2 separate regions of the Homo sapiens genome follow, and region 2 is linked to region 1. Evidence: fine-mapped expression QTL. Tissue or cell type: whole blood. Region 1 holds a variant in brackets; the other region holds the start of a gene. All regions are shown on one strand. Distances are from middle to middle.

The links. PIP is the estimated chance that this variant, and not a neighbour inherited with it, causes the effect.
Region 2: NUMB starts here. The variant in region 1 is fine-mapped to the expression of NUMB in whole blood (INTERVAL, PIP above 0.99).

The regions. Positions count from the first base shown.
Region 1 is chr14:72,977,042-72,985,145 of GRCh38, forward strand. It overlaps ZFYVE1 (zinc finger FYVE-type containing 1), which reads right to left. Exons shown (of 12, transcript NM_021260.4): 5 at 4,748-4,854; 6 at 1,820-1,928; 7 at 1,096-1,193; 8 at 886-1,003. Among named protein-coding and RNA genes, the nearest start is that of TRC-GCA8-1, 18 kb to the left of the region's middle. The variant A/AGAAT (reference allele first, on the strand shown) is at 3,485.
Region 2 is chr14:73,455,131-73,463,234 of GRCh38, forward strand. NUMB (NUMB endocytic adaptor protein) reads right to left here and starts at 3,416. Exons shown (of 13, transcript NM_001005743.2): 1 at 3,363-3,416. It overlaps LOC101928143 (a long non-coding RNA gene), which reads right to left. Exons shown (of 3, transcript NR_135251.1): 2 at 7,399-7,559; 3 at 5,805-6,134. RefSeq lists silencers at 3,140-3,269, 3,280-3,369, 3,560-3,759 and enhancers at 3,745-4,278, 4,279-4,812.

The sequences.
Region 1 (8,104 bases):
CAGAATGAAAGCATGATATCACTGCCTCACAAACAGATTTGTATTTCTGACATCTGGAATTCAAAAGTTAAAAAATAATCATTAAACTGGGCGCGGTGGCTCACGCCCATAATCCCAGCCCTTTGGGAGGCCGAGGTGGGCAGGTCACCTGAGGTCGGGAGTTTGAAACCAGCCTGACCAACATGGAGAAACCCTGTCTTTACTGAAAATACAAAATTAGCCGGGCGTGGCGGTCGTGCCTGTAATCCCAGCTACTCGGGAAGCTGAGGCAGGAGAATCACTTGAACCCGGGAGGTGGAGATTGCAGTGAGCCAAGAGAGCCAAGATCTCACCATTGCACTTCAGCCTGGGGAACAAGAGCGAAACTCCGTCTCAAAAAAAAAAAGATTAAGCGTCTATAGGAATCCCACTTCTTAGAATATACTTCAAGAAAATTTCCTATAACAAAAAAATGGCTTTCTTACACGAAGATGGTGACTAGCATTTTAATGATCTTTTTAAAAAGGTGGAAATAAAACTAAATAAAATAGCATTGTGAGGAAAAAAAGCAGGAAAAAGGCATGTAAATATTTGCATCTAGAAAAACATACACATATAGAAAATGAATGAGTAGAACATGCAAAAACGTTTTATTTGCCAAAGGAGTAAAACTATAGATTTTTAGTTTATTTCATTTAAAGTTGTACTTCTAATATATATGCAAGAAAAAATAAAAACAATTTTGGTCTAGAGAACAAAAAAGCTCTCCAGATCATGCCTTTCTAAACCGCCAACATTCTGAAATTCATGGTTAACCTTAATTTTAAGCAGGTTCCAGTTTTCTATACACATGAAAAACTGAACGACACAAGATAAAGAAAAACAGAGAAATCCAACAGTTCTTACTCCAGGCCACACATGCACAATCTCTGTCCGCACCACCGTATCCACAGGATCTTGGTTTCCAAACCAGTACTGCCGACTACGATAGACCACGCCACAGTTAGGACATTCGATCACATACCTACAAGGAAAGCAAATCAATACTGTTACCCAGCCAGGTGCCTGGGGAGACAAACGCACCAGAAAACCTTGAGCCATGTTGTTTAAACTCACCCAGACCAGGCATATTTTGCGAGACCCATCCAGGGGGAGTCAGTGGAAGCAGATGTTTTGGGCACTACACTGACTTCCTCGCCTCTCTCATAGCAGGCCTGAAACAGGAAACACTCTGCTAGCTTATTGTTTGTTTTTTGTTTGTTTTTTTAATAGACACGGGGTTTTACCAGCCCAGGCTGGTTGTGAACTCCTGGGCTCAAGCAATCTGCCCGATCTCAGGAGTTCGAGATCAGCCTGGCCAACATGGTGAAACCCTGTCTCTACTAAAAATACAAAAATTAGCTGGGCATGGTGGCACACATCTGTAATCCCAGCTACTCAGGAGGCTCAGGCAGGAGAATTGCTGCAGCCCAGGAGGTGGAGGTTGCAGTAAGCCAAGATTGTGCCACTGCACTCCAGCCTGGCTGACAGAGCAAGACTCTGTCTCAAAAAAAAAAAAAAAAAAAAAAAAAAAAAAGAATGAATGTTCGATATAAATTACCCTTACATACAAGCTCAACAGAATGAGAAGAAAATAAGCTTAAAACAGTAAACAAAGGGACCCTCACCAATGAAGACATGTGAGTGCTTTTTGTTAGAGCTGGAGAGAAGTTCCAGAAATATTCAATTTGAATATCAAATACTTCAGCATGCAGCAAAAAATGGCCCCAAGATAGTCTTGCCAAAGAGAGAGTGGTCAGCAAGCCCGCTGCTGACACAGGGAGGAGCTCGGAGGACTCACCTTGCAGGTATACACTCGGTTGTCATACTGGTGGGAGTATCTGCAGCGGCTCTTGGCTTCATGAGGCACTCCTTCCTTCCCATGATTCATGCTTTTCTTACATCCAACCCTGAATGAAGCCCAAAGACTGACAATGAGACGGCTAAAGGAGCCAGTGCCACTTACACAGAACAGCCTGACCCTGAGCCAGGCACAAGGCCACGACCAGACCTTGATTACTAACTGGGCCTCAGATGCTGAACACAGAAAGGGTAGCCGGAAACCCACATGCCTCTTTGTTACACTTGCAATCAACAGCACTACAGAGGCACAGCGACTACTATCCTTGTATGAGGACACAGGGGAAAAAGAAATCTCAGCCGGGCACGGTGGCTCACGTCTGTAATCCCAGTACTTTGGGAGGCCGACGGGGGCAGATCACTTCAGGTCAGAAGTTCAAGACCAGCCTAGCCAACATGGTGAAACATCGACTCTACCAAAAATACAAAACTTAGCCGGGCATGGTGGCGGGCACCCATAGTCCCAGGTACTCGGGAGGCTGAGGCAGGAGAATCGCTTGAACCCAGGAGGTGGAGGTTGCAGTGAGTTCAAGACCAGCCTGACCAACATGGAGAAACCCCGTCTCTACTAAAAATACAAAAAAATTAGCCAGGCATAGTGGCTCATGCCTGTAATCCCAGCTACTCAGGAGGCTGAGGCAGGAGAATCACTTGAATCCAGGAGGCGGAGGTTGCAGTAAGCCAAGATCACACCGCTATACTCCAGCCTGGGCAACAGCGAGACTCTGTCTTTAAAAAAAAAAAAAAAAATACACCCAGAAATCCCTTGTTGGAAAAACTACCTGTCCCCTCAGCAGAAATGGAGGAGCCATAAGATACCAACTTGACCAGAGAGGAAACCTGAACGTCTCTCAGAAGACTCAAAAAATCCAAACAAGATGAAATGGAACGTTTACCCAGAACAGGCTGCCAAGATGCAAAATGAAAACCAACCCCAAAATTTGGCAATGCATTAAGGGGAGGCTTAGGCTGAACAAGCCTTCCAAATGAACAATGAGCTCTGCCATCCTGATAATGCAAAAACAGAGATCAGGACTTTAGAATTTCACTATGATAAAAGGGAAAGTTCCAGAAATCCTGGGGAGGCTCACAATGGGAAAGCAATGATCCAACAGTGCTTAAGTCTCTTGTGCTGGGCTCATGGGGCATGCAAAAAGGAAGGTAAGTCACACTGTCAACTAACATCCCTCTCCCCTTTCCAAACTGAACTCTCCAAGATAATCCTTAGTTCTCCCTTGCCCAGGCTGTATAATCCAAGAAGCAGGTCTTTTTCTCGGCAAGGTCAGAGGTGGTTCTGCATGCAGCAGGTGGCCTACAGGACTCAAAGTGAAATGACCATTCATAACAGATGTAGGTCAGGTCTACTCCTGTAAAAGGAGAAGTGTGCAGGACAGGGTGGTTCTGGTAGAAGCAAAGACAATTTGGTAGTGAAGAGTGGAAGGGATTGTCTACAGGACATGGAGGCTGCCATCTGACCTCGACACACTGCATTTAAATCCCCTGGGGCCCATCAGACAAGTCACCACACTGATTTAACAGCCATCAACAGTTCAAACTAATCCAGTGATCCTCAAAGGGTGGTCCCCATGAACATCAGCATCACCTG[A/AGAAT]GAATTAATTAATTTATTTATTTATTTATTTATTTATTTATTTATTTATTTATTTATTTTGAGAAAGAGTCTCACTCTGTCGCCCAGGCTGGAGTGCAGTGGCGCAATCTCAGCTCACTGCGGGCTCCGCCTCCCGGGTTCACGCCATTCTCCTGCCTCAGCCTCCCGAGTAGCTGGGACTACAGGCGCCGGCCACCGTGCCAGGCTAATTTTTTTGTATTTTTAGTAGAGACAGGGTTTCACCATAGTCTCGATCTGCTGACCTCGTGATCCACCTGCCTCGGCCTCCCCAAGTGCTGGGATTACAGGCGTAAGCCACCGTGCCCGGCCGAGAATTTATTAAATTTATTAAAATGCAAACTCCCAGGCCCTATCTCAGACCTACTGAATTAGAAACTGTGGAGGGGGCACCCAGTGATCCTGCCCTTCAGGTTTTTCTGATGCATGCTAAAATTTGCGGATCACTGCTCTAACCATAACAAAGTGCGGTCCACAAACCAAAGGCACAGCCATTGCCCGGGAGCTTGACAGAAATGCAGAATCTCAGGTTTCACCCAGACCTGATTCCGAATCTGCATTCTAACAGAATCTCAAGGTGATGCATACACAATTGAAGTTTCGGAAGCACTGTCCCAACTCAATGTCCTCAGCTCGGGCTGCACTTTAGAATCCTCTGAGGAGCATCTTAAACATAGCAATGCAGAGGTCCTACACACGACCCGTTAATTAGAATCCCAGAAGGTGGTGCCCTGGCATAAATAATTTTGAAAGCTCCCCAGAAAATTCTAATGTGCTCTAAACATTTCCCCTAATAGTGAAAGGAATCACCTGGAATCAATACCGACCCATAGTGTTTTGCACAGGGGGGGCACTCAAATATCACTTGAATACTTAGAATACTATGAATAAGTGACTGGAAACTCTGGTAGAAAAAACACAGAAAAGCAGGCAACCCAAAGTCTTCTGCCCTAAAAACCTCCCAAACCAGAAGCTGGTCAATTTCACATCTATACCAGCTGGAATTTCCAGGAGATTCTTCACCACCATGTGTCCTTCAAGCTCTTGCTACCTCAGAAGTGTGGTTCCTAGACCACCAGGATCTTGTGGGAACATGGGAGTGTACCATTTTGGATAATTTAAATCAGAACCTGTAATTTAGCAAGATCCCAGGGGATCTGCATCCACACCAAAGTCTAGGAAGCACCACTCAAAGGCTCTATTCTCAAGGTATGGGGTGGGAGGTGGGGGAGCGGCCTTACTTACCCACAGCTGAGGCACAAGGAGGAGCAGGTGAAATACTCATCTGGAAAAAAGGAGCTGTGCGCCATCTGGTCATCGGGGATCTCACCGCTGAAGCGGTCACTTAGTGCCTGCCAAGGAGGGAAGGTGACATATGATGGCACTCAGTAGAGAGCTCCGCACTTTGGCCCCCCACTGCAGGCACCGTACAAGCAACACAGGCACAGAAGAAATCCAGTAACTTCTGCTCATTACCCTTGACCTTCCTGACCCCACTCACATCAGTCCTTACCATGGGAAACCTTGGAAAGAACCAGCCCATTCCCCAAGAGGTCAAGATAAGCAAAGTTACTGTTCTCCCCTAATTGCCTTGCAGGTTATAAACACCTCACACCACTCAGTCTTTTATTCAAGACCACCACAAATAATGATGAATGCCCATTTCATCTATGTGAGGCTGGAACCAAGAAACCAAGACTCACGAGGATGGCTCCTCTTTAAGCCACAGGCAGAGCCCAGATGTGATCTGTGAGTTTCCCGGGCTTCTATCCCAGCTATAACCACAGGCACTTACTTGGAGTTTACTAGACCATAGACAAACTCAAAGCAGGAAAAATGTCACCAGAAAAAAAAAAAAGAAGAAGAATTATTATAGTGTTTGCCAGTCATTTATCAACTCTACCAACCCCCAAAACAGACATTACCCAAAGGACAGCAAATGGCCAAAATAAATGCCAAGAAGATAACATATCCACAAAGCAAACTGAAAATTTCAGGTTGAAATGTAGCTTCCATTCCTAATCCTATCTTCACTTATTACTGGATATTGAAAGTATTCCTCAGGCTAATTACAGAAAGGCGCTTTCCACACTTTAGAAATCACTAAGCACATGCTGCTCCAAGCTTCTAACTTTCAGTCCAGCCCCAGTGTGAAGAAGCCAGGCATTATCCAAGGGAAAATAAGGGAAAGAAGCCTTAACAAAAGGACAATATGTTACTTCCTTCCATAAACGGGCAGAAGAGAATTTTAAAGGAGATCTGGAAAAAGGGCAGGTTAGGTTTTAAACGAAGAACAATTAGAACTTTTTTTTTTTTTGAGATGGAGTTTTGCTCTTGTTGCCCAGGCTGGAGTGCACTGGCACGATCTTGGCTCACTACAACCTCTGCCCCCTGGGTTCAAGAGATTCCCCTGCCTCAGCCTCCCAAGTAGCTAGGATTACAGGCACCCACCACCACACCCGGCTAATTTTTTGTATTTTTAGTAGAAATGAGGTTTCACCATTTTGGCCAGGCTGGTCTTGAACTCCAGGCCTCAGGTGATCCACCCGCCTCGGCCTCACAAAGTGCTGGGATTACAGACGTAAGCCACCATGCTCAGCTGAACAATTAGAACTTCTTATGCAAGGTTCCTTTTCCTGTTTCCAATGCAGTCTTTTTTTTTTTTTAATTATATTTTAAGTTCTAGAGTACATGAGCACAACGTGCAGGTTTGTTACATACGTATACATGTGCCACGTTGGTGTGCTGCACCCATTAACTCGTCATTTACATTAGGTGTATCTCCTAATGCTATCCTTCCCCCCTCCCCCCCACCCCACCACAGGCCTCGATGTGTGATGTTCCCCCCCTTCCTGTGTCCAAGTGTTCTCATTGTTCAATTCCCACCTATAAGTGAGAACATGCGGTGTTTGGTTTTTTGTCCTTGCAATAGTTTGCTGAGAATGATGGTTTCCAGCTTCATCCATGTCCCTACAAAGGACATGAACTCATCCTTTTTTATGGCTGCATAGTATTCCATGGTGTATATGTGCCACATTTTCTTAATCCAGTCTATCATTGATGGACATTTGGGTTGGTTCCAAGTCTTTGCTATTGTGAATAGTGCCGCAATAAACATACGTGTGCATGTGTCTTTGTAGCAGCATGATTTATAATCCTTTGGGTATATACCCAGTAATGGGATGGCTGGGTCAAATGGTATTTCTAGTTCTAGATTCTTGAGGAATCGCCACGCTGGTTGAACTAGTTTACAGTCCCACCAACAGTGTAAAAGTGTTCCTATTTCTCCACATCCTCTCCAGTATCTGTTGTTTCCTGGCCATCAGAGAAATGCAAATCAAAACCACAATGAGATACCATCTCACACCAGTTAGAATGGCGATCATTAAAAAGTCCAATGCAGTCTTAACACCAGGAGTTGCAAACTCAAGTCCCTACAAAGGCACGTAATATCAATGTTGAGTCAGGTCAGGTGTAGGACCAGAATAGTGGCAAGGAGTGGGTCAAACTGAAGGTACACAACTCACCCAAGGACATTCTCACTCAGGTCCTGCAGGGCTACTGCAGAGGCCATAGAACACCATCCGTCAGCCACGGCTGACCAAGCGGCAACCCTGGACTTCAAACAACAAAAAAAATGGTCTGACAAATAATGCATAAGTCCTATACTTTTTGGGGGTACTTTGATAAAGAGTTAAAACATGGGGCCAGGCACGGTGGCTCATGCCTGTAATCCCAGCATTTTGGGAGGCCAAGGTGGGTGGATCACGAGGTCAGGAGTTCGAGACCAGCCTGTCCAGCATGGTGAAACCCCATCTCTACTAAAAATACAAAAATTAGCTGGGCGTGGTGGCGGGCGCCTGTAATCCCAGCTACTCAGGAGACTGAGGCAGGAGAATCATTTGAACCCGGGAGGCGGACGTTACAGTGAGCCAAGATCACGCCATTGCACTCCAGCCTGGGTGACAGGGTGAGACTCCGTCTCAAAAAAAAAAAAAATTGAAAACATGAAGATCTTGAAAGAGGATATGAATGAATATATAGAAATGCTGAGAATAAATGAGAAGCAGGGCAAGTGGAATTATAAGTCGGCCTATACATTTCAGCCTATACAGCGTTCTCTCTCCTGCTTCTACCTGAGACCCATTCTTCAGGGATGTTTGTGGTCTCACCTCTTCCAATGAAGCCTCTCCAACCACATCACTCTCTGCCTTCTCTGACAGCCCATTGTACTCAATACTGTAACTCGGTATTAAATAATTAGGCAATGATGCAAAGCTATGGGTTTGCTGTATTTTATCTCCAGGACTAGATCATAAATACTGTGAAAGCAGCTTCCTACCTTTGCATCCTCCTCCAAATCCTAGCAAAGGACCTAACAGGTACTCAGCTAGAACTGCTGGAATAAGTGCCCAGCACCAACTCCCCTTCACAAACCAACCTTGCCCTCCTCCTCTCCTGGCCCTGCCCTTGCCCTAGGCTTCTTTCATCCCATCCCCAGAGGTCCTCTCAAATTTAAGGCTAACTACTCCCTAACTGGCCAAATTATCAATAACTCTCCAGGCTGTTTCTCAAAGATATGTACAGAACACTCTGAAGACA
Region 2 (8,104 bases), 480 kb after region 1:
AAATAAAACTAAAAATTATTTTTGAGAGAGAAAAAAATAAACCAAAAATCCTGATGCAAAGCTATACCAACAGTTTCTTCACAATTTCATAAAACATTAATGAAGAGGTTACATAATCCCCTGGATTAAAGATTTTAAAGAAAGCTGCAAGGATCTCTTTCAGTTTTCAATACTGCTTCCTGTTCTTAACAGCCATAAAAACAGATCTAAATCAACTCCTAAATATAAACCATCTAGCTTTCAATGGAAGAAAAATCAAACCACGTACAGATAAAACATACATATTCTTTTTAAAAACACGCTGTAAATTACATTTAGGTTCCTCAAACAAGTTAAGTTTACAACATGTACCACATCCAGTTTATTCTCAAGGGAGAAAACCATTAAACAAAAGCTCCCTCTTAATAAATGATTTACTTTGTAGTTAAGCCTCTATCCCAGGTGCATTTTGCTGTCACATATTACCACTATTTCTTTTCTCTACAAAGACCTAGAAACTGTATATCTAGTTCCTTTAAAAATATCTGTATATGTTTTATATTAGTGTAAGGATAAGAAATACTTAATATTTTTACTCTCTAAAAAGGAAATATCTTTTCATTTTTCTCTTTTGCAGTGTTTCTTACTTTGTTTTTGCTTATTTTCTATACATGAAATTTTCTCAAGTCAGTCCATTTCAGTGTTGTTTACTGTCAATATGTCTGTGTATACTCAGGCTTTTACAAACAATGCTTTACGGTACAGTGATAAAAAAGAAAGGGTGAACAAGAGGGCACAAGTGAAACAAAAGCGGACAACATCTGAGAAACACCATTCAATTTCTCTGCCTCAGATTCCCTTAAGTTCTCATGCCAAAGATTCTCAATATCCAAAAAAGTTCCAGAGTCAGAGGCATAACACAATATGTGACAAGACAAACACAGGAGGAACCAAATCAGAAACTGAAGAAATTTAATGGAATATAATACTCCCAAAAAAACCTTTTTTTTTTTTTTTAAGATGGAGTTTCACTCTTGTTGCCCAGACTGGAATGCAATGGCATGATCTCGGCTCACTGCAACCTCCACCTCCGGGGTTCAAGCAATTCTCCAGCCTCAGCCTTCCAAGTAGCTGGGATTACAGGCACGCGCCACCACGCCCAGCTAATTTTGTATTTTTTTTAAAGATGGGGGTCTCACCATGTTGGTCAGGCTGATCTTGAACTCCTGACCTCAAGTGATCCGCCCGCCTTGGCCTCCCAAAGTGCTGGGATTATAGGCGTGAGCCACCGCACCCAGCTTTCAGACTTTTTTAACTGTAAGAAATATATTTTATCCTTTGGCCAGGAACTCAAAAAAAGAAATACACTTTACATTGTGACCTAGTACATACATGTAGGAGAAAAGTTTCCCAAAACAATACTTTTCCTTACCAAATGCAATGTCAGTTTATTCTGTTCTACATTTTATTTTCAATGCAGGTAAAAACTCACAACATTGATTTTATAAATTACTAATAAATCACAATCCACAGTTTGAAAAACACAGGCTAAAAATGAGTATCCTTTATAATAGGATCTTTTAGGCAATTTGCCTCTACCTGTCTCTTTAGCAGGTATTTTAAAGTTGCTACCATTATTACCGGTTTCATTAAAGTAAGTGGTTCTTAAAGTGTGGTCCTCTGACCAACGTGATCATCATTTGAGATAAATATAAATTATTGGGCCCCACCCCAGACCTACTGAAACCCCCAGGTGGGGCCAAGCAATCTACATTTTACCAAGCCCTCCAGGTGATTTTGATGCAAGCTAACATCTGCGAGCCAGGTCTTTACCTTCTATTTAAGAAGTCAGGTCTTTATCGTCTATTGAACAATCCAGTACACACGACTATGTGCCAGTCACTATCCTAAAAGCTCTACAAATACCAACTCACATGAAAAAAAAAACACCACCACCACCTTATAAAGTAGGAACTATTACTATTAGTATTCTGATGAGGAAACTGCACAGAAACTTAGCTAAGTGGTGGAACTAGAACTCAAAACTTCTTTTCACTTTAGCCGAGTATGCCTACCCTCTTTCTGATAAGTATTTACTTCTACTCCTTTAGTTCAGCTACTCCTCCCCTTTTCCCTCCCAAATTCCCCACCCTGTCAATGAACCTATTTCCTAATATTACTGCCATCATCCTAAAACAAATTTCTTTTCTAAAACAAGTCACTTAACCTTGCTTTTAGGAGCTTTGCTTTGGTCCTAGATGTCATCTTGATATTAATTACGAAACTGAAGTTTCTTCTATTTGTGAAGACCTGTGAACCTACATGGCTCCACTGTTAATTTCTCATATATCTACTGTCCTAGCCAGTTCCACGAAACCATTACTCTCTCCTCGGGCAACTTTCTTTCTCTACCTTATCCCCTCCTATAGGGATTCTCTCCCACCTCCGCCCATCTCCGTCCCATTTTGCATGACTCCTCTCCGACCGAGGGAACTTCCACTCCCCTGCTGGCTCCTCACCCCGGTCTCAAACGCGAGCCACTCCTCGAGGACTTCTTTCCTGGTCCCTTAGGGATCCTCAGAGCCGGAGCGGCCAGGCCAGTTGGGTCTCCCATCCCAGCTCAGCTATGGGGGCGCAGGGAGCTCCGGTTCTTCCCCCAGGCGGTGCAAGATCTCTACTCGTCCGACCCTCCGAAGACCTGCTGCTCCTCATCTCTCCAGGAGCCCCCTCCCTTGGACAGCCGCTTTTCTCAGGAGGGTCCCCAACCCCCTCCGAGCGTTTCCTCAGACGCCCCTACTTGGAGCAAGTCTGCTCCCTGTCACCCGGGACCCTGGCCACCCTCGGCCTTCCTACCTCCCTCGGACCGGGGCCACTCCCAGTTCCCCTGCCCCCCACCCCGCTCTCTCCTCACCGGCCGCTGCCGGGCTTCCCGGATTCCTTTTCTCCCTGGCACCCAAGCCGTCCTGGGTATTCCCAAGACACCCCGCCCTTGAAGCAGGTCGTTACAGGTCACCCCCTCTCTGGGACCCTGGCCGCTTCCGTTTCCTCAGATACCTACTCCTCACACAGTGGCCGCCGGTCAGCGCGCTAGACCGGAGCAGCTGGACGTCCCAAGGGACCTCCTGGCCTGACCCGCGCGGGTCCGGCCGTAGCCTACCTTCCTCGGGAGAACTCCGCAGCCAGAAGCCCAGCCCCTCTCCCCCTAGCCCAGTCAGCGCGAACTCGCCGCCGCCCCCGCCGCCTCCGCCCTGGCCCCGGCCCCGGCCCGGGCCCCGACCCGAAGTCCAGGCCCCCTTCCTCCGGCCTCCGCCTCCGGAGTGCTGAGCTGGAGATTCCGCCCCGCGACGGCCCCCAGATCTCTGACCCGCGTTACCGGCACTCACCTGCCGCTGCCCCCGACCAACTCAAGCGCCACTGCCTCTACCTCGGCCGCCAGTGGCCACCAAGCGCCACCACCTCCCCCATGACAACAGGCCCACCCTCTTTCATACTTCTAACCTATCCATTGGATAGTGGGGCGGCAGCTCTCCTCTCTGATTGGTTTAGTATACCCGCCCGTCATCGCTCTTTACCGCCCCTTTTCCTAAACCCGGTATTCGCCCCCGCCCGGACCTGGAGCGTCCTAGCCCAAGCTTTAGTTGTAATTGGTTGAGGGTTGGGCAATTCGAAGTTATGATAGGCTGCTAAAAGTGTCTGTTAAGCTAACTGGCAAGAGACGTGACGGTTAAGGTTGATTCACGCTTGTGCACAGTTTGGTTGCGCAGTAGAAAGCAAAGGAGGGGCAGACGCTCACATTCGTGGTTACCCGGGAAGGGTTAAGTCTTTGTTGTAGAGTTTTCTCTGTAAACTTTTCCACTTCTCCAGCTCACTTCCTGCAAGGAGAAGCTTATCTCTGCTAGCTTTATTCATAGGGGTAGTACTTACAAAACACCAACATTAGAGGTTGTGTTTAAGAAGTGTTTCCAAGCCCTGGGGAGAAAGGTATCAGAGAGATAAAAATGTCCCCTTCTTTTCTTTGGTCTCAATGCATCCAATTTCATTGAAGTTCTTTCCAGGAGCCTCAATGCTAAAGGGCAAAGCGCAAACTTTCATTTAGCAGAAATCAGTCAACTTCGGTTGCAATTATAAATGTCGTCAATAAACTGAAGTGGCGTATTGAGAGTTCTCCAGCTTCCAGATCCACTCCTGGCTGACCCCTGCCAATTGACCAGACAGCCATTAGCAACTTTTTTTTTTTTTTTTTTTTTCTGTGAGACGGAGTTTCTCTCTTGTTGCCCAGGCTGGAGTGCAATGGTGCTATCTCGGCTCATCGCAACCTACGCCTCCCAGGTTCAAGCGATTCTTCTGCCTTAGCCTCCCGAGTAGCTGGGATTATAGGCATGAGACGGGGTTTCTCCATGTTGGTCAGGCTAGTCTCGAACTCCCAACCTCAGGTGATCCGCCCGCCTCGGCCTCCCAAAGTGCTGGTATTACAGGCGTAAGCCACCGCGCCCGGCCAGCAACTTTCTAATAAGCGGGCCACATTATACCCTTTATGATGCTCTGGAAATGAGAATTCTGCTTTCCCCCACCTCTCACTGCCACTTTGTTTTTCTGTTCAGCAGTTCTTAAATAGCCCTACTAGCTGTGTGTCAGATACTTTAAAAGCTTCTCTCTCTCTCTCTCTTTTTTTTTTCTAAACCTCTTCCTAGCAGTCTAAATTAGGGCCATTGAATGAATTGCCGGGTTGTGTGTGTGTGTGTTTTTTTTTTTTCCTCACTTGGCACAATGCACAAGAATAAATGATTGCATTTTTTATTCACTTGGGTACAAATCACAGTAGGCATTTTTGAGAAATCTAATGTTGCTATAAAAACTCTTGTGCTCCTAGAAATATATTCATCATTAGCTTTTTGTTTTTCCTTTTTTTTCACCCACTTTTCCTGCTCCTAAATAACAAAATGCTGGTCTGATTACTCTTTCAGTTTCTAAATCAGATTTAAATGTACTTTCTCACAACCCCACCTATGATACATATACCCATGGGCCATGAAACAACACCCAGGGATAGTTTAAGACACTGTCAGGCCGTGCGGTGGCTCATGCCTGTTATCCCAGCACTCTGGGAGGCCGAGCCGGGCAGATCACCTGAGGTCAGGAGTTTGAGACCAGCCTGACTAACATGGTGAAACCCCTGTCTCTGCAGATGGTGCCACTGCACTCCAGCCTGGGCAACAGAGTGAGACTCTGTCTTAAAAAAAAAAAAAAAAAAAGACACTGTCAAGGAGGCATTCACCTCAAGGATGTGGACTTTGGAAATGTGCTTTGTCTCTTTCTTCTTTCTGCTAACCCTTTGTCTCATATTTCTTCTATTTACTAACCTCCTTGTTCTTTGCAGAGCAAGCTACAAAGAGTCTAAAACTGTATGGTTTATTATTCAGAAAAATATTGTCTTTTTTCTAGCCTATATTTTTAGTCAAGTTTAAATAAAGTACATACTTCTATCACCAGACTAAGCAGAAATTATTCCTCCAGTAACTATACATAACAATAAAGTGCCTTTTCCTAGTTATTTTCCGGAACTTTCCTCCCCCTCCTCTCTTCCTCACCTTCCAATTTAGAAATAACCTCCCATTCAATTCAATGACTCACAAAAAGCCTGTGAAAGGAAAGTGGAAAAGCCAAAATAACTTAGAGATGTCTGAATCATTCAGCTGAAGGAAAGATCAGACATTGACCATGATAAGATAGACGCCAAGACATAAGGCAAGCCTGAGCTAACATCCCATAACATGTGAAGTAATGCAAATGTGAAGATGCCCCAAGAAAAAGCAAATACCAATATGTCCTTTTACACAGCCTTTTAATATATCACCAGCAGCTTGCTTCTCTCTAGTCTTGGCAGTGTGCCATGCTACCAATTTTAGAGCAAGTTAGAAGACAATTAATGTCCTGACAGATAGGAAACAATAACGTCATAGGAGGACATGACCATTATTATGGTACTTTGGGTAATAATGGCTCTTGCACAGCCATAGTGACTAGGTGCCATAGAAAACATAGAATTAGGCCAGCCTTGCTAAGAGGACTTGCCATCTAAGTTGAAGAATGCAGCGAAATTACTATCACAAAACTGGGTGGAAAATTGTCACAAAAGTCAGCCGCTATTTCATACACTAAAAAAAAAAAAAAAAAGAAAGCATGTATAAATGCTTTTGCTCATATACACACATCTATCATTCCTATTCTTTGTGAATATCAGTTAAGAAAGGACATATAAAATAAATATGTTACAACCCAGTAAGTAGTGGGAAAACCTTAAGGAAGGTTTCAAGGAACATGCCTTGAAATAACAGAAGGCTATTGTGTTATCAAAGACTGTGCAGTACCGGAGGGGTTATTGCTTGTATCCCTACATTTTGCTTTCACGTGCACAAGGTAACCCTATCATGTAATTACTCCATCCAGCTTTTTTCTTTTCTTTCCTGTGTTTTTTGCTTCTCTACCATTCTCAGGGCTCCCTCTCAGAAAACAAGAACACTGGAGTCTGGGAGTCTGCAGCTTCCTGTTGCATGGCTGGCTGTGGAGGTCCTGCAGATGGTATCTGTTCAGAGCCACTTGGGCACGACCAAGATGGCAGGTACATTCGGGGCAAAAATAGCATTTATAATCCCAATTAAGCAGAAAATAGAGGACTCAGAGTGATGTCCAATATCTGAGGAGTGATATAGTGTGCCTTGGGCTTTCCTGTACACTAATGCTGTTTCTCCTGCTCTTTCATAATGTCACTTTTCAAGGGAAAAGAATCCAAGTCTCTTTCCATTTCTATTTTAGCCCACAGGGGCAATCTCACTAGGGAAAGGATCCATTTTTTGCTTTTGGATTTTCTTCCTCTGGATTCTACACACGATTCCAATTCCAACTAGATTAGAGAAATAAACAACCGGTGGAGAAGAAAATCGCTCAGATAGCAGACAAGGGCCAGAACTGCCTGCCACTAGCAGTTGGAGGCAAGCCAAAATATTTGATAAGAGGTAGCTTCCTGAGTTAGGGATCCCTGAGGGTGGAGGCTGACAAAGATGAAGGGATTAGAGAGAAGGGGAGGGAAAAGGAGGGAAGAGGAGGAGATGAGGGGGCAGGAGAGAAAAGGGTAAGAAAAGCTAGAAAAACAGTCAAAAAACCCAATCAGAGTGCTGAGCCAGCTTACAGTCCTGCCTTGCCTACCCCCTATCCCCACCCATGTGGACTTTACACTAGGTTGCATAATTACACCAGCAAAGTGCAGCCTCTGCCACTGGTTAAAAGGGAAAGCGTGCCAGGCTCCAGCCTATGGGACCGTTGTTCTGCTGCCACCTGGAAATCCTCCCAGAGCTCAAAGCCTGCTGCTCTGGGCAAAGCTGACAAGGAAGGACAGATTCAGCAGCCAACCAAGGAGCATACCTTCATTTGATTTCCTTAAGGCAAAAGCACTGGCTAAACAAAGGGAGACTATCTGGGAGAAGGTGTTTTCACCCTTTCAAGCTGGGGTGCTTTCACCACCGGGAAGTGCCACGCTGCTTTCCACGCTGGAACAAGGTACTGTGGTTTCAAAGTTCAAGGCTCTGTTTCAGGGATGGGAAGGAAAAAAAAATCAGTGAAAGAAGGTGTTCTGGTCTCTCAGGCAGAACCATTTGTTATTTGATTCCAGAGCTCATGTAATTTTTAAATACCACACTATGCATTTTCATTACTAAATGCATTCATTTTCATCCTCAAGAAAAGTGTATGCCCCCTTCCGCCTGCTTTACATAATATGGCTTGAGCGCTTGTAAAAATGGATGGGCTGTAGCTCTGAGTTCTGCCATTGTGCTATTGACTGGAGCTCCTGGTTACTATCACCAGATCTATGGGTGGATCAGCCATTCTTCTGCAGCAGGGAGTGGACCGACTCAAAGCACTTAGCACCATTTAAACTTTTGTCCATCTCTGTTTTTATGCACACAAAGAGTTTCCTGGAAACATGGCTATCCTCCAAGGATTTCAGAGAGTAGAATTCTTCCAGAACTGCAGTGTCCCAATCACTTGGAACCTCATGAGAAAGCAGACTTAAACTCAGACCCTAGAACCTCGAACTTAGTATGTTCCAAAAGCTTTGGCTCTGCCATTT